2 separate regions of the Homo sapiens genome follow, and region 2 is linked to region 1. The links come from fine-mapping of genetic effects on gene expression. A gene starts in region 1. The other region holds a variant in brackets. All regions are shown on one strand. Distances are between the middles of the regions.

Region 1 (9,148 bases):
AACTTTCCTTTTTTTCTTTTTTTTTCTTTTTTTGTGTTTCTTTTTTCTTTCTCTGTTTTCTTACATGGTTCTGGTGGATTCACATTTGCTGATGCTGGTGCTGTTTTTCGTGTGATCTTCAACGTTTTTGGGTGACCATTGACCCTGTGACCTCAAAATGGTGTCCAACTAACCACTTAAAATTAACATCTTTTTTTTAATTAACGAATTTATGGTATTTTTTTTTTTCCCTTGGCGGGGATGGGGTTGGGGTTGTTTTTTCTCTATTCTAGATTATCCAGCCAAGAAGATGAAAACTACAGAGAAGGGATTTGGCTTGGTGGCTTATGCTGCAGATTCATCTGATGAAGAGGAGGAACATGGAGGTCATAAAAATGCAAGTAGTTTTCCACAGGGCTGGAGTTTGGGATACCAATATCCTTCATCACAACCACGAGCTAAACAACAGATGCCATTCTGGATGGCTCCCTAGGAAACAGTGGAACAGAGTTTTGACCCTCAGTGACTCTTCTTAGCAATAATGCATGCATTTGATTTAACAAGACTCTGGGGCCTGTGCTGGGAACCATCTGGACCTTTGCAGAAGTTAGAGATTCAGTGCCCCCCTTTCTTAAAGGGGTTCCTTAACAACCACAAAAATCCTTATTTCTGCAGTGGCATAGAATCTGTTAAAATTTAATTAGAATCACAAATTTATCTCAGAAGCTTTTTAACAGTTGGTGAAATGTGCTTGTCCAACAAAGCATCCTAACAGGGTCGTTCCCATACACATTTGACCTGGTCAGCCTTTTCCAGGTGAATAGCCCCAGTTCTGACATAAAGAAAGTTTTATTTGTATTTTACTACTGTTTGGTCAATTTTGATATATAACTGGTTACAAACAGAGCCTTACTATTTATTAGTGGGGAAATGATTTTAAGACCGTCCTTTTCAGTATTTAATTCTGACAGATCTGCATCCCTGTTTTGTTTTGGATTATTTCTGTTTTGGAAAATGCTGTCTCATTTAAAACTGTTGGATATAGCTGGATCCTGGATAGGAAAATGAAATTATTTTTTCATTGTGTTTTTTAATTGGGGTGATCCAAAGCTGGCACCTTCAGGCACATTGGTCTCATAGCCATTACTGTTTTTATTGCCCTTCTAAGATCCTGTCTTCAGCTGGGTCAGAGAAAACTTCTTGACTAAAACTGGTCAGAACTCATCACAGAAATGAAATACAGTGGTCTCTCTCTCCCAGAACTGGTTGCAGCTAAAACAGAGAGATCTGACTGCTGGCTATAGGATTTTGGACTTAATGACTGAAATTGCAAATTGTCCTTTTTCTTGGCATTACAGATTTTGCCAAAATAACTTTTTGTATCAAATATTGATGTGTGAAAGTGAAGGAGCTAGTCTGCTGAACCAGGAATAGTTTGAGATATTGAACTGTCATTTTTGCACATTTGAATACTTTGCAGGCTGGCTTTGTATAAACTTATCCTCTGGTTTCCTATATGTTGTAAATATTTAGACCATAATTTCATTATAAATAAATCTATAAATATTCTGCTTGTGGTTTCTCTGTTTTCTTCCACAACCCATCCATACACTGAAATTCATAAACTTTTTTACTCATAGCACAATGCAACTATAACATTACCAGAAAAATACATATACAGACCCCAAGGTTTGCATATAGTTCCCAGAGTTATGTAACTGCAAAATGTACCCTTAAAGTTCAAATGAAAAGGTTAAGGATTATTATGCTGGATATTTTCCATTTTCATATTTTAGCCCTCCTTTATTTAACAGCGTATTAAAAGGACTTCATGAATGAAGCGGGTTTTAAAGGAAATATGTTATTCTTGGAAAGACATTTTATTTTTTTTTGAGATGGAGTCTCGCTCTGTCACCCAGGCTGGAGTGGAATGGTGCAATCCTGGCTCACCGCAACCTCCTGGGTTCAAGTGGTTCTCCAGCCTCAGCCTCCTGAGTAGCTGGGATTATAGGCACCTACCACCATGCCCAACTAATTTTTATATTTTTAGTAGAGACAGGGAGTCACCATTTTGGCCAGGCTGGTCTTGAACTCCTGATCCTCAAGTGATCAGCCCACTTCAGCCTCCCAAAGTCCTGGGATTACAGGCGTGAGCCAGCACTCCTGGCCAGAAAGACTTAAATTTTGAGACGGAGTTTTGCTCTGTTGCCAGGCTGGAGTGCAGTGGCACCCTCTCAGCCAGCTAACTGCAACCTCCACCTCCCAGGTTCAAGTGATTCTCCTGCCTCAGCCTCCCGAGTAGCTGGGACTTATAGGCGCATGCCACCACACCCAGCTAATTCTTTTGTATTTTTAGTAGAGACGGTTTTACATGTTGGCCAGGATGGTCTCTTATTTCTTGACCTCATGACTCACCTGCCTCGGCCTCCCAGAGTGCTGGGATTACAGGTGTGAGCCACCGCGCCCGCCCGGCCCAGAAAGACATTTAAAAAGAACAGTGGTAGGCAGAGCTGCATGAGAACAATTTTCGTGTCAGTTTCTTCTAGCACCTGTGCTACGTAAATAGAGGGGAATATGGTTATAGTGGCTGCGCTTCAGTTCTGTATTTAACTCAAGGCCTCTGTTAACTCAGAGCTCTCTTTCCTGCCAGAGTGTGGTACATTTATTTAAAACAAGTTTTTGTGTGTCTTATACGTGTTTAAAATACATACAGAACTCTGATTAGGGAGTGTTGTGAACATCTGGTTTCTGAGAATGAATTTAGGTTTCAATAGCAAAAGTCATTGTGGCCGCTCCTTTAGGAAAGTCATTTTTCTCCTATGAGTAGTCATCCCCGGTAGACTTGACTGAAATCCTGTGTTTTAGGAGGATTTGGGGGGTGCCCCTGTCCTCCCTTCCTCTCATTACATTGGGTCAAATTAGTTTTGGGTTTTTTTTTTTCCCACAAGCAGCAAACAACCCTCGGTAAGTTGTTAATTTAAGTGTCCCTGCATGTCTCTTATCACGTACTCCCTTCCCTTTTGTGTAAATAATTTACTTTCTACTCGTGATTAAATACCCTTGTCTGTGAGTGCATACACCCTAGGTTGGGTAGGTGACCAGAGGACCTTCAGCGGTGGGTCCCGGAACTGGGTTTTAGGGACCTGGGAGGGGCGGGAAGAGGGCGGGGCAGGCTGTGGGCGTCACTGAGTGGCCCCGCCCCTCCTTCCGCGACTCGGGCGCCGGTGGCGCCATCTTACTCGGTTGCGGGAGGGGTCACAGGTCAGTGCCGGAGCCTCCGCGAGTGAAGGAAGACGAAGTGCGTGACCCGACCGGCTGTGGTGTTCCAGTCCCCACTGACCAGTAGGAGCAGCAGGGCGTCGGCTTGTGAGGTAGAGGGGTGGGGAGTCTGGCGGCGGAGCAGCAGCTGGGGGTGGGGAGGGGGTTCGGAGGAGAATGGGGAGGGGGCGGAACCTCTGGGTACCGCAGACGTGAGAGAACCCCTGCGGCCTAAGGGGCCGCATCCCTTTCTTCCCAAAACTTTCTCCTTGTCCCTACTGTGCCGAGACGTAAATTTATTTGTATCTTTTTATTTTTCTCTTTGGAAAAAGTAAAACCTGTGATGTGTCATGTGACTGAACTGTCTAGGAGGGAGGGTGAAGATGGGGGGGTTTCTTAGGGCCACCCGAAAGGGTGCAGTGGTGAGCAAGAGGGACAGGCCAGAGTAAGAGGGACAGGCCAGAATATGTATGGAAAGGTAAGGCACTGGCTTGAGGGCTGTCGCCGTGGTGTCTCCATCCTGGATTAAGCATTTCCTCCTCCTTTTCTAGGTGGCTTTTCCTCGGGGCAACCGAGGAAGGCCCCAAGAGGACAATGGATTCTGGAACTCGCCCAGTTGGTAGCTGCTGTAGCAGCCCCGCTGGGCTCTCACGGGAGTACAAACTAGTGATGCTGGGTGCTGGTGGTGTAGGGAAGAGTGGTAGGTAACATTTTCCATTTGACAGGAAGCATGGATGAAAAGTACTTAAATGACCAGATGGGATACTTGCTATCTTGCAATGTTAATACTTAAAATTCTCTCTGTGGGTCACCTTTGTGAGGATTTGACTTTTATTTCTTCTTTTGAAGCCATGACCATGCAGTTCATCAGCCACCGATTCCCAGAAGATCATGATCCCACCATTGGTAAGCCAGATCATCACTTATGTTTCCAAATATACCCCATAAAAATATCTTAATGAATATCAGTAGTTTCTAACTATTTATATTTTGAGGCTTTTTTGGAGTCTAATTCAGATTTATTTAGAAACAAGGGTATCAGCAGTTGGTAAGCAACTGAATATTTCTTTTTTTTTCAGACTTTATGTCATAAGCCATCTTTAGTCTTTGTCTCTTACTGAACATTAATGGGACAACTCTCTTTGTTGTATTTTTTTATGGTTGTATACAGGCCACTTAACGAAGCCTTTTCTTGCTGTCACTTCTCTAAGGGTATGACTTGAGACTCGCTCTGTAACTGTGAGTCAGCTGGTTTGAACTTCCACAAAAGGAAGCAGAGAAACAAGTAGAGCCAGGCTGCTGAACTCTTACAACCCAGACATGCCAAGCCTGGACATCTTGCACTTGGAGCTCTTGGTTTACTTCCTTATACCTTAAGTTCATTACGTAGTAATGTCTTCTCCCATGTCTGTCTGTTGTTTTTTTTTTTTTTTTGAGATGGAGTCTCGCACTGTCTCCCAGGCTGGAGGGCAATGGTGCGATCTCCGGTCACTGTAACCTCCGCCTCCCGGGTTCAAGCAATTCTCCTGCCTCAGCCTCCTGAGTAGCTGGGATTACAGGCATCTGCCACCACACCCGGCTAATTTTTGTATTTTTAGTAGAGATGGGATTTCACTATGTTGGCCAGGCTGGTCTCAAACTCCTGACCTCAAGTAATCCATCCACCTCAGCCTCGAAAAGTACTGGGATTACAGGCGTGAGCCACTGTGCCTAGCCCTCCGATGTCTTTTATGGTCCTTAACTCTTGTTGCAGAACGCTAATAGAGTAAAAAAGTCATTTTGTTTGCTTTGACTTTTTTATTTTTTAATTGCTAATCTCTACAAAGACTAAGAACATTACTGTCATTCCTAAACCATAAGGAAGCAGGTTTGATTCTAAGGGTTTATATCCTAATATGAAAGAAAAATGGATGTGGGAATGGGAGAGGGCACAGAAAGTCAGCTGTACTGTTATTTTCTTTTTTTGTTTTTTTTTTTGGAGACGGTGTCTCACCCTGTTGCCCGGGCTGGAGTGCGGTGGCACAATCTCGGCTCACTACAAGCTCCACCTCCCAGGTTCATGCCATTCTCCTGCCTCAGCCTCCCGAGTATCTGGGACTACAGGCGCCCGCCACCAAGCCCGGCTAATTTTTTTTTGTATTTTTAGTAGAGATGGGATTTCACCGTGTTAGCCAGGATGGTCTCAATCTCCTGACCTCGTGATCTGCCCACCTCGGACTCCCAAAGTGCTGGGATTACAGGCGTGACCACTGCGCCGGGCCTTATTATTTTCAGTATGTGACACTCTTTGCCATGATCCTAGTTCTCTAGGAAGGATTTCCATTGGGTCAGGCCTCTGCTGCTCTGTTTCCCGCAAAGCCAATAATGTTTTGTGGTGGCCCAGCTTTGATATGGTCATTTCATAGAGCACATGATTCCAGGGATGGGAAAAATAGAAAAAGTCTTGACTTTTTCATGTACTATATCAAATTTAGAACACTGTTCAGAGATTCAGGCCAGGCGCGGTGGCTCATGCCTGTAATCCCAGCACTTTGAGAGGTCGAGGCGGGTGGAGCACCTGAGGTCAGGAGTTCGAGACCAGCCTGGCCAACATGGTGAAACCCCATCTCTACTAAAAATACCAAAACTAGCCGGGCGTGGTGCTGGGTGCCTGTAATCCCAGCTACTGCGGGGGCTGAGGCAGGAGAATTGCTTGAACCTGGGAGGCGGAGGTTGCAGTGAGCCGAGATAGTGCCATCACACTCCAGCCTGGGGGATAAGAGCAAGCTTTTGTCTCAAAAAAAAAAAAAAAAATTGTTCAGAGATTCAAATTATGGCGGGAGTTCTAGGAATAAAATGAATTTAGGGCTTACGCATATGTACTTGAGAACTCCAAAAGCATCTTTTCCTTTCTTTTTTTTTGAGACAGAGTCTGACTCTGTCATCCAGGCTGGAGTGCAGTGGCGCCGTCTTGGCTCACTGCAAGCTCCGCCTCCCGGGTTCACGCCATTCTCCTGCCTCAGCCTCCTGAGTAGCTGGGACTACAGGGGCCCATCACCACGCCCGGCTAATTTTTTGTACCTTTAGTAGAGACAGGGTTTCACTGTGTTAGCCAGGATGGTCTCGATCTCCTGACCTCGTGATCTGTCTGCCTTGGCCTCCCAAAGTGCTGGGATTACAGGCGTGAGCCACCGTGCCCGGCCGCGTCTTTCCCTTTCTTTAAAGTAAAACTCAAATACTCGTCTCCTGTAAGAGTTATCTGTATTTTTTTTTTTGTTTTTTTTTTTTAGATGGAGTCTCACTGTCGCCCAGGCTAGAGTGCAGTGGCATGATCTCGGCTCACTGCAGGCTCCGCCCCCCCGGGGTTCATGCCATTCTCCTGCCTCAGGCTCCAGCGTAGCTGGGACTACAGGCACCCGCCACCTCGCCTGGCTAATTTTTTGTATTTTTAGTAGAGACGGGGTTTCACCGTGTTAGCCAGGATGGTCTCGATCTCCTGACCTTGTGATCCGTCCGCCTCGGCCTCCCAAAGTGCTGGGATTACAGGCGTGAGCCACCGCATCCGGCCAAGTTATCTGTTTTAATCAATTTTCCTCCAGTTAACTACTCTCCTGGCAATATTATCTGATTCAACAGCAAATACTTATGTCTTCTGAGTTTCTATTATGTGCCAAGCACTGCTTACCCTCAGGGTACAGTGGTGATCAAAAAGATGAGGTTTCTGTTCTTGAGTTTCTAATTTAGTGCATTTGATTTCAAGCTCTGGCTGTAAACTCAGAAAAACTTTACATTGTAACTGGTAGAGATATAAAAGCATACAAGGCCGGGTGCGGAGGCTTACGCCTGTAATCCTGAGCCTGCAATCCTGTAATCGAAGCACTTTAGGAGGCCAAGGCACCTGAGGTCAGGAGTTCAAGACCAGCCTGGCCAACATGGTAAAACCCCATCTCTACTGAAAATACAAAAATTAGCTGGGCGTGTTACTGCTGCATGCCTGTAATCCCAGCTACTCAGGAAGCTGAGGTGGGAGAATTCCTTGAACCCAGAAGGCAGAGGTTGCAGTGAGCCGAGATTGCACCACTGCACTCCGCCCTGAGCGACAGAGTGAGACTTTGCCTCAAAAAAAAAAAAAAAAAGCATATGAATGTGTGCATATGTATATATAAATTATATACACAAGCGCATGTGTATGTGTAGCTAAAATATTATGAAACTTTACCTCACTACATCTGGTGCACTCTGATATTTTCTTTTCTTTTCTTTTTTTTTGAGACAGGGTCTCACTCTGTTGCCCATGCTGGAGTGCAGTGTTGTGATCTTGGCTCACTGCAGCCTGGACCTCCTGGGTTCAGGTGATCCTCCCGCCTCACCCTACCAAATACCTGGGACTGCAGGCGTAGGCCACTAAGCCCAGCTAATATTTTTGGATTTTTAGTAGAGATGAGGTCTCGCTCTATTGCCCAGGCTGGTCTCAAACTCCTGAGCGCAAGTGATCCTCCCACCTGGACCTCCCAAAGCACTGAGATTACAGGCGTGAGAGCCACTGTACCTCACCCACTCTGGTATTTTCTTTCTTTTTTTTTCTTTTTTTCTTTTTTTTTTTTTTTTTTTTTTGAGACGGAGAATTTCACTCCTGTTGCCCAGGCTAGAGTCCAGTGGCACAATCTTGGCTCACTGCAACCTCCACCTCCCAGTTCAAGCGATTCTCCTGCCTCAGCCTCCCAAGTAGCTGGGATTACAGGCGCCTGTGACCACATCCAGATAATTTTTGTATTTTTAGTAGAGATGGGGTTTCACCACATTAGCCAGGCTGGTCTTGAACTCCTGACCTCAGGTGATCCACCCGCCTCAGCCTCCCAAAGTGCTGGGATTACAGGCATGAACCACTGTGCCTGGCCTGGTATTTTCTATTTTTATTTAGGTTTCTGCTTGTTTATTTTAATGCTGGTCCCGGCCCATTAAGTAGATTTCACAACTCACTAATCCTAATGAATAATTGAGAAGCATTGATTTAATGAGCTCTTCATCTTTGAGGAAGAGACAGAAGCAGGAATTCAAGAAAAAATGTTAAAAGGAAATACATTGAGATGTAAGCAGCAGTTGTTAAGTGAATGAAATATTGCGTGGCTTTTTTTTTCTTTTTAGTTTTCTATATTTTCCAAGGTTACTATAGTAATATGCATAAAGAAATTTGCTTTCAGAAAAGAGAAATTACGAAACTGTGGATTATTTAGAAAATAGTCAGTTAGACCGGGTGCAGTGGCTCACGCCTGTAATCCCAACACTTTGGGAGGCTGAGGCAGGTGGATCATTTGAGGTCAGGCGTTCAAGACCAGCCTGGCCAACATGGTGAAACCCTGTCTATACTAAAAATACAAAAATTAGCCGGGCAATAGTGGCATGTGCCTGTAATCCCAGCTACTCAGGAGGCTGAGGCAGGAGAATCCCTTGAGCCTGGGAGGCAGAAGTTGTGGTGAGCCGAGATCATGCCACTGCACTCCAGTCTGGGTGATAGAGTGAGAGCCTGTCTCAAAAAAAAAAAAAATAGTGAATTATATATTTTTTTCCTTTTTTGTAGTATTGAGGAGGAAGTATAACACATGGTTAATAATGCTTTTCAGTTCAGCAATCTTGGATTTTAATCCTCATTCTGTCACTAATTAACTAATTTAGAGAAGACATTAATATTTTCAAGTTGAATTTTCTTTAGCTGTAAAATGGAGGTAATAATGCCTACTTCATTGGATTATTGTGATTATTGAAGAATTAATATATATAAGTTACTTAGTATAATGTCTGGTAGATAATAACAATTTAATAAATGGTAAAGTTACTTTTCAGGCCTAATTTTTTTTTTCCCCTAAGAGATGGGGTCTCGGCTGAGTGCAGTGGCCCACACCTGTAATACCAGCACTTTGGGAGGCCAAGGCAG
Region 2 (13,976 bases), 41 kb before region 1:
AAGAGCAGCTCACAGGTACTGTTACTGTGCACAGGCACTTTTACACCTGTGGGAAAAGATTATTTTCGTCCTCATTTTATAGATGATGAAAGTAAAGCTTCAAGTCAGTTAAATAATTTGTCAAGGGTTGCACACATTTCTAAGTCCCTTCTGGCTGGCACCAGTGCCTGGCTCTTAACTGGTATTGTAAGATGACTCTTCAGTCCTTTCAGTCCTCGTCCAGAAGGATTGAAGGCCTAAATATGCCAAGGGACAGGATTCCCAGGCTTAATCCTTCCTTTCCCCTGACTGGCAGGACAAGCCTTCAGTGGTATCGCTGCAGAATCTAATCGTACGAGACATTGCCAACCAGGAGAAAGGGATGTTTCTGATCAGCGCAGCCCCACCTGAGATGTACGAGGTGCACACAGCATCCCGGGATGACCGGAGCACCTGGATCCGGGTCATTCAGCAGAGCGTGCGCACGTGAGTGTCTGCCTGCCGCCTGCATGTGCTTATGACCTCAGGGTACCTGCAGCATTAGATCCCAACCATAGAACTCCCTGGGAACAGAATCCAGCATTCAGAGGTGGGGGAAGAGGTTGAGGGAGAGACAAAATGGCCCAAGACTGGAAAGGTCACCTATGTTCTTATGTCCTGTAAAGCCACATTTTATACATTGCCAACCTCAACTCCCTTTCAAATTCAGCATGAGCTGACAAGCAAGGGAATACTTTGAGCTGTCACATGGTGGCATACCTGCCAGCCAACAGTACAATTTCAGCTGCATTCACATGTTCATCTGTAGGCAGAGGGCTGTTATTTGGATTGTATTGTATTTTACATTTATTTTTCTAAAAATGAATGAAAAAGAGGATAATGAAAGCATCGATACTAGAGAGGAACAAGTCTCATAAACAGACTCAACACAATAGAAGCAAGAAGGAAATCAGTGTGTCAAAGCAGCAAATCTTTAGCTTCTATTGGACACACATTAGATTTGAGGCAGTCAACTATGTGTCTAATTGTGATGGGAAAAAACATCAAATAAAGCACAGGTAAGATGTTTAAAATGGATTCTGGAAGATTATGCCTAAAGAATGAAGTGTAAGTGTAATTCTAATTCAGATTTTTACAGGTTTTCTTTCTTTTTTTTTTTTAATTTTTTTTGAGACAGAGTCTCGCTCTCAGCTCACTGCAACCTCCACCTCCTGGATTCAAGCGATTCTCCTGCCTCAGCCTCCCAAATAGCTGGGACTACAGGTGCCCACCACGACCCCAGGCAAATTTTTTTTTTTTTTTTTTTTTTTTGGAGACAGAGTCTCTGTTGCCGGGCTGCCTCAGCCTCCTGAGTAGCTGGGACTACAGGCTCACGCCACCATGCCCAGCTAATTTTTGTATTTTTAGTAGAGACGGGGTTTTACCATGTTGGCCAGGATGGTCTTGATATCTTGACCTCGTAATCGACCCGCCTCAGCCTCCCAAAGTCCTGGGATTACAGGCATGAGCCACTGCACCCAGCCAAATTTTTGTATTTTTAGTGGAGACGGGGTTTTGCCATGTTGACCAAGCTGGTCTCGAACTCCTGATCTCAGATTTATCCGCCCACCTCAGCCTCCAAAAGAGCTGAGATTACAGGCATTAGCCACCATGCCCAGCCAAGATTTTTATAATTTTTCTTTAGCTTTCAGGGAATCAGTTCTCAACTTTATAATTTGTAAACCTTTTTTTTTTTTTAACTTCTGCACCATGGAATTTTGAAAAGGTTTTTAGAAATGCATATAAAAGTATGAAATTGCAGGCCAGGCACAGTGGCTCACGCCTGTAATCCCGGCACTTTGAGAGGCTGAGGCGGGTAGATCACTTGAGGTCAGGAGTTCAAGACCAGCCCGGCCAATATGGTGAAACCTCGTCTCTACTAAAAATACAAAAATTAGCCGGGCGTGGTGGCATAAGCTTGTAATCCCAGTTACGCGGGAAGCTGAGGCAGGAGAATCGCTTGAACCCGGGGGTGGAGGTTGCAGTGAGTCAGGATTGTGCCACTGCACTCCAGCCTAGGTGACAGAGTGAGACTCCATCTCCAAAAAAAAATTATGAAATTGCCTATTCCAAGAAAGCAGTTCAAAATAACCTGTCCTGTTGACAGATCTGTAGTGGCTTCTTTATTAATAGTATTAATATTTATAATTGTGGCCAGGCGCTGTGGCTCACACCTGGAATCCCAGCACTTTGGGAGGCTGAGACAGGCGGACCACTGGAGTTCGAGACCAGCCTGGCCAACATGGCGAAACCCTGTCTCTACTAAAAATATAAAACTTAGCCAGGCATGGTGGTGCGTGCCTGTAGTCCCAGCTGCTTGGGAGACTGAGGCAGGAGAATCACCTGAACCTGGGAGGCAGAGGTTGCAGTGAGCCAAGATCCTGTCACTGGACTCCAGCCTGGGCGAAAGTGCAAGACTCTCTCTCAAAAAAAAAATTATAATTGTGGAAATTAATAATATTAATTGTAATTGATTTGTTGAGCTTCTGTTATGTTCAAAGCACTTTAACATTTCATTTAATCCTAATGAAAAACCTATGAGGAAGATATTACCTTCATTTTTCAAATGAGGAAATAGAGAGGTTACCACCTGGTAAACAGTGGAGCCAGGATTTGCATCCTGTTTGCTTGATGCCAAAGCCTGTACTTGACCCTCTGCACTGTGCTGCCTTTCCAAGCGACCTTTGGAGAGATATATCTCAGTAAACGCAGATAATCAGTGCTAAGAAATGGGAGAAGGTCGGCCGGGCGCGGTGGCTCATGCCTGTAATCCCAGCACTTTGGGAGGCGGAGGATCACCTGAGGTCAGGAGTTTGAGACCAGCCTGGCCAACGTGACGAAACCCCATGTCTACTAAAAATACAAAAATTAGCCAGGCATGGTGGTGCGTGCCTGTAATCCTAGCTACTCAGGAGGCTGAGACAAGTGAATCACTTGAACCCAGGAGGAGGTTGTAGTGAGCTGAGATAGCGCCCTTGCACTCCAGCCTGGGTGACAGAGTAAGACTCCGTCTCAAAAAAAAAAGAAAGAAAAGGGAGAAGGTCAGGACTAAATTAAAGCTAGGGTGTGAGGCTGAGGAGTCTTATCAGAAGATGGAAGCATAAGGCATGTTTGGGAAGGAGGGAAGGCTGATTCTGGTCTATAACCTAGCTTCTGTCTCTCAATGGCATGCGACCTGTTACCCCTCCAGATGCCCATCCAGGGAGGACTTCCCCCTGATTGAGACAGAGGATGAGGCTTACCTGCGGCGAATTAAGAGTAAGTCCACCCACAAGGAGCTCCTTAGTAATTTATAATACATTCACACAATGGAATATTATGCAACTGTTAAAAAGATGAGATGGCTCTATGAGGGCTGGTGTAGATCCACAACTGAAACATATTAAGTGAAAAAAGCAAGGTTTAAAACAATGTAAAGTGTATACTACCATGTGTGTAAAAATAATATGGAAGACCAAGGTTGGGTGAGTAACTTACTTTTTCACTGTAAGGCCTTATATTAGTTAGGGTATGATTTAACTGCTATACTAAAAGACCACAAAAATCTTCTTCCTTAAAAAAGGAAGTAGATTGGCCGGGCGCGGTGGCTCACGCCTGTAATCCCAGCACTTTGGGAGGCCGAGGTGGGCGGATCACGAGGTCAGGAGATTGAGACCATCCTGGCTAACACGGTGAAACCCCGTCTCTACTAAAAAATACAAAAAAAAAATTAGTCGGGGGTGGTGGCGGGTGCCTGTAGTCCCAGCTACTCAGGAGAGTGAGGTAGGAGAATGGCATGAACCTGGGAGGCGGAGCTTGCAGTGAGCTGAGATCACGCCACTGCACTCCAGCCTGGGCAACAGAGGGAGACTCCATCTCAAAAAAAAAAAAAAAAAAAGAAGTAGATTGGCTGGATGCAGTGGCTCACGCCTTTAATCCCAGAAGGATTTGGGAGACAGGAGGATCTCTTGAGGTCAGGAGTTCGAGACCAGTCTGGGCAACAAAACATACATAGCAAGACCCTGTCTCTACAAAAAATTAAAAAAAAAAAAATAGCTAGGCATGATGGTACACACCTGTAGTCCTGGCTACTCGGGAGGCTGAGGTGGGCGGATTGTTTGAGCCCAGGAGTTCAAGGCTGTAATACACTATAATTGCACCACTGCACTCCAGTCTGGGTAACAACAACAACAAAAAAAA[C/A]CCCAACAAGGTAGAATATTATTGCTGTCAACATAACAGTTCAAAGTGGGAAGTGCAGAGTAGTGGTGCAGCTCTGCCATCTTTAACATGAAGTTTTCATCTCTATGTCATGTCTGAAGTGGCTACTCCAGCTCCCACTGTCACACCTGTATCACACCTAGCAAGGAGGAGTAAAGGAATAGAGTTTATACCCTTTTTTCTTTTTCTTTCTTTCTTTTTTTTTTTTTTTTTTTTGAGACAGGGTCTTGCTCTGTCGCCCAGGGTGGAGTGCAGTGGCGTGGCGTGATCTCGACTCACTGCAACCTCCATCTCCCACGTTCAAGTGATTCTCCTGCCTCAGCCTCCCAAGGAGCTGGGATTACAGGCATCCACCACCACTCCTGGCTAATTTTTGTATTTTTAGTAGAGATAGGGTTTCACCATGTTGGCCAGGCTGGTCTCGAACTCCTGGCCTCAAGTGATCCACCTGCCATGCCCAGCCTATACCCATTTCTTTTAAGAGCAGATCTGGAAGATGCTCATATCCATTGGCCAGAATGTAGTCATGTAGCAATATAGTCACGTGCAAGTCAGGCTGGAAAACATAGTTGTTAACTGGGCAGCCATGTGTGCCCAGATGAAACTTCTATGCATTTTCTCATTAAAGGAAGATGGAAAGAATGAACACTGTTGGACAACCTGCAACCCCTTCCACAAATCTTTTTTTTTTTTTTTTGAGACAGAGTCTTGCTGTGTCGCCCAGGCTGGAGTGCAGTGGTGTGATCTCGGCCTCACTGCAACCTCTGCCTCCTGGGTTCAAGCGATTCTTGTGCCTCAGCCTCCTGAGTAGCTGGGACTACAGGCGCGTGCCACCACACCTGGCTAATTTTTGTATTTTAAGTAGAGACAGGGTTTTGCCATGTTAGCCAGGCTGGTCTTGAACTCCTGGCCTCAAGCGATCCACCTGCCTTGGCCTCCCAAAGTGCTGGGATTACAGGTGTGAGCCACTACACCTGACCAACAGAAAGCTTTTTCTTTTTTATAAATGCCAAAATAACAAAATTAAGTCTGCCACACTGCCCCACCCTACCCCTCTCCCCTAGGGCTGTCCTCTACTGGCGCTCTTGCATACCCCTACGTCCTCTCATGTCCTCACTTGTTCCTTATCTGCAGTGGAGTTGCAGCAGAAGGACCGGGCACTGGTGGAGCTGCTGCGAGAGAAGGTCGGGCTGTTTGCTGAGATGACCCATTTCCAGGCCGAAGAGGATGGTGGCAGTGGGATGGCCCTGCCCACCCTGCCCAGGGGCCTTTTCCGCTCTGAGTCCCTTGAGTCCCCTCGTGGCGAGCGGCTGCTGCAGGATGCCATCCGTGAGGGTGAGGGAGCTCCCAGGGAAGAGTCCAGGCTCAAGCACTCACCGTCACAGAATGTGGACATGTGACTAGACATGGACAAACACAGACAAGTGGGATGCCAACCCTATAAACCATAAACGGCCCTGAGTGCCTCTTCTGGGCCAGTTCCTGGGAAAGGCAGGGGAGGAGGTGTGGTCCTTGCTGCTGCTCCATATCGTCCATGCTGCATGGACTCTGCTGCCTCGTAGGCATTTACTGCCCTTTACCTCATCAGTGGTTGTGTGAGTGAAACCCCACTGCCAGTGCAGGGGGCATTCCCCCAGATGCCCAAGTGTCCCACATGTGGGGGTGAATGGCATTCCCCTCAGGGTCCTGTGTCATTCCTGTTCTCACCTCTTCCTCTTTCCCCACAGTGGAGGGTCTGAAAGACCTGCTGGTGGGGCCAGGAGTGGAACTGCTCTTGACACCCCGAGAGCCAGCCCTGCCCTTGGAACCAGACAGCGGTGGTAACACGAGTCCTGGGGTCACTGCCAGTGAGTACCAGGGCAGGGGACCAAGGTAGTAGGTGGGAGGGGCCAAAGTTAGTAGAGTGGTACCAGGGATCAAGTGGTATCAGGGCCCCAGGGAAGTGAGCTCAGCCATCCTTTTCTCCTTCTCAACAGATGGTGAGGCCAGAACCTTCAATGGCTCCATTGAACTCTGCAGAGCTGACTCAGACTCTAGCCAGAGGGTAGGTCCTCAAGAGGTTCTGGGACTTGGCAAGAGGGTGGGAGAGGGACAGCCAGCCTCTGGATCCTCAACACAAAGCTGTCAGGGGCAGGCACCCAGGATTTGTGTGCCTGCTGACTCCCCATTCTTGCCCATTTCTGCAGGATCGAAATGGAAATCAGCTGAGATCACCGCAAGAGGTGAGATGGGAATTGATGGTATAGGAGACTGAAGGGAGGATGTTCTTAGTCTGAGTAGTTAGAGCCCAGTTTGGAGTGGGGTGGGGAAAGCGTCTACATTCAAGTATGTCTCCGGATCCTACTGTCCCCACACCCACCCTTGTTCAACTTTTGGGCAGTTCTCCCATCCTAAAGCTGGGGCCCTGTTCCCACCCTGTCTGTCCTCAGGAGGCGTTACAGCGATTGGTCAATCTCTATGGACTTCTACATGGCCTACAGGTCAGTAGGACAAGGGCTTGAATGGGGAAGGGGAGGAGCCAGGCTAGAGATGCCTGTTTAGGTGGGGCATGGTCATCCCAACAGGCCTTTCTAAATACCCTCCCAATCCAAGCTCTCCAGGAGCGATGATCTGGGCCTTGGAGGGTGAAGGCGAGGGGTAGAAGAGCACAGGGGTTCTGATAAACCCTTCTGCCTGCATTCTACTCCCAGGCAGCTGTGGCCCAGCAGGACACTCTGATGGAAGCCCGGTTCCCTGAGGGCCCTGAGCGGCGGGAGAAGCTGTGCCGAGCCAACTCTCGGGATGGGGAGGCTGGCAGGGCTGGGGCTGCCCCTGTGGCCCCTGAAAAGCAGGCCACGGAACTGGCATTACTGCAGCGGCAACATGCGCTGCTGCAGGAGGAGCTACGGCGCTGCCGGCGGCTAGGTGAAGAACGGGCAACCGAAGCTGGCAGCCTGGAGGCCCGGCTCCGGGAGAGTGAGCAGGCCCGGGCACTGCTGGAGCGTGAGGCCGAAGAGGCTCGAAGGCAGCTGGCCGCCCTGGGCCAGACCGAGCCACTCCCAGCTGAGGCCCCCTGGGCCCGCAGACCTGTGGATCCTCGGCGGCGCAGCCTCCCCGCAGGCGATGCCCTGTACTTGAGTTTCAACCCCCCACAGGTAAGGTGGCCTGCAGTGGTGAATGGACCTGGGGTGGACATAAGGGTCCATGGAGCCCGAAAGAAATTGGGCCATTGGGGATTTGAGCCCAAATGCAATCAGTCAACTGACTTGAAGGATATTGAGATACTGGTTGGAGAACTGAAAAGAAATGTAGATGGGTGCAGGGGTGGAGGAAATTAACTCGGGTCGTGGTGCTGAAAGAGGCCAGTTGGTGGTGGATCTCCTGAAGGGGACTCATGGGTGAGCCCCAGGGGGGAGAGCTGCTGCCTTCAGCCAAGCAGAACCTCCAATCTTCACACTACTCAGTCCCTGACCTGCTGTTCTTCCTGCCCACTGTCCACAGCCCAGCCGAGGCACTGACCGCCTGGATCTACCTGTCACTACTCGCTCTGTCCATCGAAACTTTGAGGACCGAGAGAGGCAGGAACTGGGGAGCCCCGAAGAGCGGCTGCAAGACAGCAGTGACCCTGACACTGGCAGCGAGGAGGAAGGTAGCAGCCGTCTGTCTCCGCCCCACAGTCCACGAGGTGAGACCCTGGCGGAGACATGGACCAGAGGTAGAGTGCAGCCTGGGTACAGGCCATTGGGCTGTGGCTTCCAAATGGGCCCTAACTGACCTGTGAGGCTTGTAGTAACTCTAGGGAGGGACTTCCTGTTTTGTCTGATGATGAATGGGTGGTGGAAGTCTAGGAAGCAGGAGGGGCCTCTCTCCTCCAACTGGTTGGTGATTCCCAACCTTTAGAAGTAAAAACAGATTCTTTTTTAAAAAGGCATGGCGGCTCAGGCCTGTAATCCTAACACTTTGGGAGGCCAAGGCAGGAGGATCGCTTGAGCTCAGAATTTTGAGGCCAGCCTGGGCAACATAGTGAGACCCACCTTCTCTACAAAAAAAAATTCATTTATTTATTTTTTTATTTTATTTAATTAATTTATTTCATTATTATTTTTTGAGATGGAGTCTTGCACTGTTGCCTGGGCTGGAGTGCAGTGGCGTGATCTTGGCTCACTGCAACCTCTGCCTTCCAGGTTCAAGCGATTCTCCTGCCTCAGCCTCCCAAGTAGCTAGGATTACAGGCGCCCACCGCCACGCCCAGCTAATTTTTGTATTTTTAGTAGAAATGGGGTTTCACTATGTTGGCCAGGTTGGTCTTGAACGGCTGACCTCGCGATCCACCTGTCTTGGCCTCCCAGAGTGTCGGGATTACAGGCATGAGCCACCACGCCTGGCTAAATTTTTTTTTTTTTTGAGATGGAATTCTCACTCTGTCGCCAGGCTGGAGTACAGTAGTGAGATCTCCGCTTACTGCAACCTCCGCCTCCCAGGTCCAAGTGATTCTCCTGCCTCAGACTCCCGAGTAGCTGGGACTACAGGCACATGCCTCCACGCCCAGCTAATTTTTGTATTTTTAGAAGAGATAGGGTTTCACCATGTTGCCCAGTCTGGTCTCAATCTCTTGACCTCATGATCCGCCTGCCTTGGCCTCCCAAAGTGCTGGGATTACAGATGTGAGCCACTGCACCCGGTCTATTTTATTTTATTTTATTTTATTTTATTTTATTTATTTATTTATTTAAGATGGAGTCTCACTCTGTCACCCAGGCTGGAGTGCAGTGGCACAATCTCAGCTCACTGCAACCTCCACCTCCTGAGTTCAAGTGATTCTCCTGCCTCAGCCTCTCGAGTAGCTGGGATTTACAGGCATGCACTACCACACCTGGCTAATTTTTTTTGTATTTTTTAGTAGAGATGGGGTTTCACCATGTTGGCCAGGCTGGTCTCGAACTCCTGGCCTCAGGTGATTCACCCACATTGGCCTCCCAAAGTGCTGGGATTACAGGTGTGAGCCACCGTGCCTGGTCCCCCAAAATTTTTTTAATTAGCCAGGTGTGGTGGAGTGAGCCTGTAGTCCTAGCTACGGAGAGTGAGAGTGAGGTGAGAGGATCACTTGAGCCCAGCAGGTTGAGTTGACAGTACTCCGTGATTGCTCCAGCCTGGGCGACAGAAAGAGACCCGGAGACCCAGACAGAGGATCTCACTCTAAAATTTTTTATGTTAGAGAGAGGGTCTTGTGCTGTTGCCGAGGCTGGACTCAAACTCCTGGGCTTAAGTGATCCTCCCAAGTAGCTGGGGCTACAGGTACATACCACTGTGCCTGGGAAGGTATAGTTTTTTGTTTTGTTTTGTTTTGTTTTTTTTGAGACAGTTTTGCTCTGTCACCCAGGCTGGAGTGTAGTGGCACAATCTCAGCTCACTGCAACTTCCACCTCCCAAGTTCAAGCAATTCTTGTTCCTCAGCCTCCCGAGTAGCTGGGATTACAGGCGCATGCCACCACATATAGCTAATTTTTGGCATTTTTAGTAGAGATGGGGTTTCACCATGTTGGCCAGGCTGGTCTCCAACTCCTGGCCTTAAGTGATTCTCCCACCTTAGCCTCCCAAAGTGTTAGGATTATAAGCACGAGCCATGGGGCCAGTTTTTAAAGTAAAAAAAGTTTCAAAGAACTTCAAGTTTTTACAGTTGGTTCATGAAATAAAAAATTACCAAAAGCTTTAACCTTAAAGTATTTTGTATTTTCCTAATCAAATTGTATCTTTGGATACTGTAAAAGTGTATCCGGTACCTAGGTATGGATACCTTGCTTACTTTGTTGCCAAAGGTTTTCCTCTCACCCAAGAATTTACAGAACCCTGTCATCCCTTCACAGCCCCAGAGCCCCCTGAGCCTGCAGATGGGGAGGCATTAGTCTAGGGGTACAGTTCCTCATGGGAGTCTCTGCTAACTCACTGGCTTTGTCCTGTCCCCCTTCAGACTTTACCAGAATGCAGGACATCCCGGAGGAGACGGAGAGCCGCGACGGGGAGGCTGTAGCCTCCGAGAGCTAAGGGGGCCCCTCCCCCCTGCCCCGTGCCCCACTGAAGAACATTACTGAGGGGGCTAACCTTGGGGACTCCAATTTGCCAATGATGAGGGAACATTTGAAAGAACTGCAAATTGTCCTTGCCAGCTCTTGGGATCCTTGGATACCTGGGGCCATTTAAGAAGCTAGGGGAATTAGGCCACAACACCCCCTGGGACATCCGAAAGCTACACCACAGATGCCAGTGGTTCATGCCTTCTTCCCGCAACTTTAGGAAAATTTATTTATTTATTGTTTATTAGTTATGGGGGGAGAGGGGAGATTTAAAGGACCAGGGACATGGGAACCAAGCCATAGGGATCAGAGGGCCTTGTCCTTGAACACTACTGGGGTATATTCAGGCTCATCCACGCAGCTGCTGGGTTCTTGCCCTAACGGCCCTCCCCTGCAACATCCGTCTTGGAGGAGAGGCTGCAGCCACAGCACCCTACTGCCCTTTAAATAAAGGAGGGCTGTGGGCAGGGCCATGTCCCTTTCTCCTCTCCCCTCAACCTCTTACTGCTGTTCTCCCTTTCTCCGTCCTTCATGGAAGCCCTGGGAGATAACCTGGCTTCCTGGAGTTGATGGAATAAAGGTTGGGGTGGCCATAATGGTTTGTTGGGGGTGAGGGAAAAAACCCACAGGGACCAGAATGTTTTGTTGTTCTTTTGTTTTCTTTTTTGTACCAAAGTCAACTGCACGTGTTTTATATTTTTAAGAGATCGTAGGCAATTAGAGATCGAAGCCTCCTATCTCCACATCTCTGAAGAAGTTGAGGGGTGGGGGAGAGAATGACTTCTGCCTTCATCTGCAGTAACGGGGGGACCTATACTGACCTCTTCCCCAGCCATTTAGAAACAAGTTCTAGGGTGGGTTGGAAAATCTCCAAGAGCCCTGACCTCATCTTCCACCTCAGCAACCATGACCTGAAACCTCAGCGTGAATTTGGGGGATTTTTCAGTGGAACCCTTGCCCCCAAATGTCGACCAGCCCCCAAATGTCGAAGAATTTTCTTCTTGCCAATTTTGTTGTTTAAAAAAAAAATTCAGGGAAAATTAAAAACCTGGAACTCCATAAGGTACTGTCTTCCATAATGTCTGCCAATTCTGAGGAGGATGGTAGTAGAGAGCCGGGCAGTGACCTAAGTTCCTCTGAAAGGGGCCTTTTCCTCTCACCGCAAGGACAGCCTCTGCCTCACTGAAGAGAGGGGGCACTAACAAAAGTAACCACTGCAAATCTTTTTTTTGTTTTTTTAATTCACAAATACAAGGATAAAAACAAAGGGGCACACAGGTTCCAATGTTGGGAATTCCGGTATCAGGAAAAGTGTGTTCATCGTATTTGTATGCCATGCTCAGCAATCACCTCCACCTATTGCCCCCATCCCCAGTGTCATTCATTGTCAGATCCATCCCCCACTAGGCCCTTGTTGATCTCCATGATGTCGGGCCCTGGGGTTACCCGTCACAGGAGCTGCTCATTTACTGTCCCTCTTTGAGAGGCAGTGAGAGATGAGCTGGTTTCAGTTCTTGGTTTTAGTTGGTTTTACTTCCTGTTCCCAGTTGGTACTTACTTTGGGGCTGTGGGGGAGGGGAGGAGGTGAGAGTCTAGGGTTGTATAAATGCTGGTATGAATTCACATCCCTGTTGGAGCCTGTGGGGTCAGATCAGGAGAAGGGGGCTCAGGCCCTCAGCTAGAAAGAGGAATTGAAGTCACATGGGGAGCAGGCTGGGGGAGCAGCCAGCACCCTCCCCTTCTGTAACTCTCATCCACCAGCATCAAGCCTTTACAAGGTGCTTTCTCAGCCATTACGGGGATCCTGAGAATGGGGAATTGTTCTCATTTTATGGGCCGGGAAACCTAGGTGCACGAAGCTTGCCAGGCCAGGAGGGGGCCGGCCTTCTTAGTTCCAGTCCACCACTTTTCTCTCTTGGCTACTCTGCCTAAAAATACCAGGGCTGGCTGGGTGCAGTGGCTCACGCCTATAATCCCAGCACTTTGGGAAGCTGAGTTGGGTGGATCACTTGAGGCCAGGAGTTCGAGACCAGCCTGGCCAACATGGTGAAACCCCATCTCTACTAAAAATACAAAAATTAGCCGGGCGTGATGGCGGGCACCTGTATTCCCAGCTACCTGGGAGGCTGAGGTGGGAGAATTGCTTGAACCCGGGAGGCAGAGGTTGCAGTGAGCCGAGATTGTGCCACTGCACTCCAGCACTCCAGCCTGGGTGACAGAGCAAGACCCTGCCTGGAGAAAAGAAAAAAAAAAAAACACCAGGGCTTCACATTTCACACACAGGGACACAGGGCTCAGCAGCTGTCTTCCAGGTCAGCTGGAAGTATCTCCGACCCAGAGCTGTGAGGGTGGCACCTTTAGGTGGGGAAGGAAGGTAGGTGGGGGTAGGGTGAGGATATTAGACAGCATGCAGAGACCACCAAGAAAGGGGAATGCAGGCTCTCCCAGAATGCCCCACAGATCCAATGAGAGATGCTGGTCAGCAGAGAACATGGAAACCTGGAGACACAGCCCAGAGTGGGTGTGAAGTCCCCCGCTGCTTTCTTTGAAGCAGTGCTGTCCCTTCTGCCACCCCGTACCAACCCCCTCCACACACACACACACACACACACACACACACACACACACACACCTTCAGCCCCAGAACATGGGGCACAAGCATTTGTCTGATGTGTCTACTCCTGAGAGCTAGGCCTCTTCCTCACATCTTTCACCGTTGTGTCCCCTGTCCCCTCCCTAACCCACTTTTGGGAACCCACAGTCTTAACCTCTGTCCCTCCTGCTGAAGTTTCAAAGCCATTTGGCTTGGTGTTCCAGGGAGCCAGGGCCCAGGTTCTCACCAAAACATTGCCTTCCCTCCGTTCCAAGGGGAGCTCCAGGCCGCCTGCTCTGCCCAGCCCTCCCTTCTCCATCCTCCACTGCACCCTCCTCGTTCCACTCCCCCACAAGAGTAGGTCTTTGTGCATGCAGTTCATCTCTAACTTGGACCTGTGTACACTTTGTCAATATTTACCTCTGGGGCCCATAAAGCAGAGATGCCCCCAGAGGAGCCAATATCCGGAGCCCAGCAAAGCCATCAGAGGGAGCTGCTGGGGTGGGAAGATGGGTGCTTAGGTGGTGAGGGATTTTCCATTGCCTGCATGGGCTAGGAATAGACGTGGAGTTTTGGAACTAGTTTAAACATCATCAAAAAGAGGAAATTAAACAAGAGGCTAATTAAGTTCCTTTCACATTGCTTAATCTGTTGTGAATTGGGTGCCTCTTTGGAGCCTCCTCTGCCCAGCAATTAAAGGAACTGGGACAGGGGGCACCTGGAGGCACTGTGGCCTCCCCCTTCACAGGGCGCTCTGCACTTAATAAGGCGGCACTGCTCCCAGCTGCTGCCCCAGGAGCCTGAGCAGCCTGCGTCCTCATAGGTTACAAGTCATGCCAGAGAGCTTGGGGCGGGGGGCGGTGGGGGGGCAGTGGAAGTGGGAGCTCTACCTCATCTTCCCTCTGCCTCCCTCCTTTCTAGGGGCTGCCTCCTAGAAAATCCTTCTGATGGCTAACCTTTATCATTGATGCATCTCAATACAGGAACCAAAGAGGAACCCCTGTCCTGGAGAACACACCTTCAAGAGGGGCTTAGGGGCCAACCTCTGAGTTCTTTATGTGAGACTTTCATTATACCCCACTTCAGAGCATATACAACCATTCCAGCTGAGACATGGT

Evidence for each region. PIP is the estimated chance that this variant, and not a neighbour inherited with it, causes the effect.
Region 2: its variant is fine-mapped to the expression of RIT1 in blood mononuclear cells (TOPMed, PIP above 0.99).

Annotation. Positions count from the first base shown.
Region 1 is chr1:155,905,445-155,914,592 of GRCh38, reverse strand. It overlaps RIT1 (Ras like without CAAX 1), which reads left to right and starts at 3,244. Exons shown (of 6, transcript NM_006912.6): 1 at 3,244-3,350; 2 at 3,789-3,937; 3 at 4,087-4,143. The coding sequence starts at 3,832. KHDC4 (KH domain containing 4, pre-mRNA splicing factor) reads left to right here. Exons shown (of 14, transcript NM_014949.4): 14 at 273-1,548. The coding sequence ends at 472.
Region 2 is chr1:155,944,202-155,958,177 of GRCh38, reverse strand. ARHGEF2 (Rho/Rac guanine nucleotide exchange factor 2) reads left to right here. Exons shown (of 22, transcript NM_001162383.2): 13 at 296-465; 14 at 3,209-3,276; 15 at 5,350-5,550; 16 at 5,943-6,062; 17 at 6,192-6,259; 18 at 6,402-6,437; 19 at 6,645-6,695; 20 at 6,906-7,349; 21 at 7,696-7,879; 22 at 10,163-11,324. The coding sequence ends at 10,236. MIR6738 (microRNA 6738) reads left to right here and starts at 6,842; the gene lies at 6,842-6,905. The variant C/A (reference allele first, on the strand shown) is at 4,198.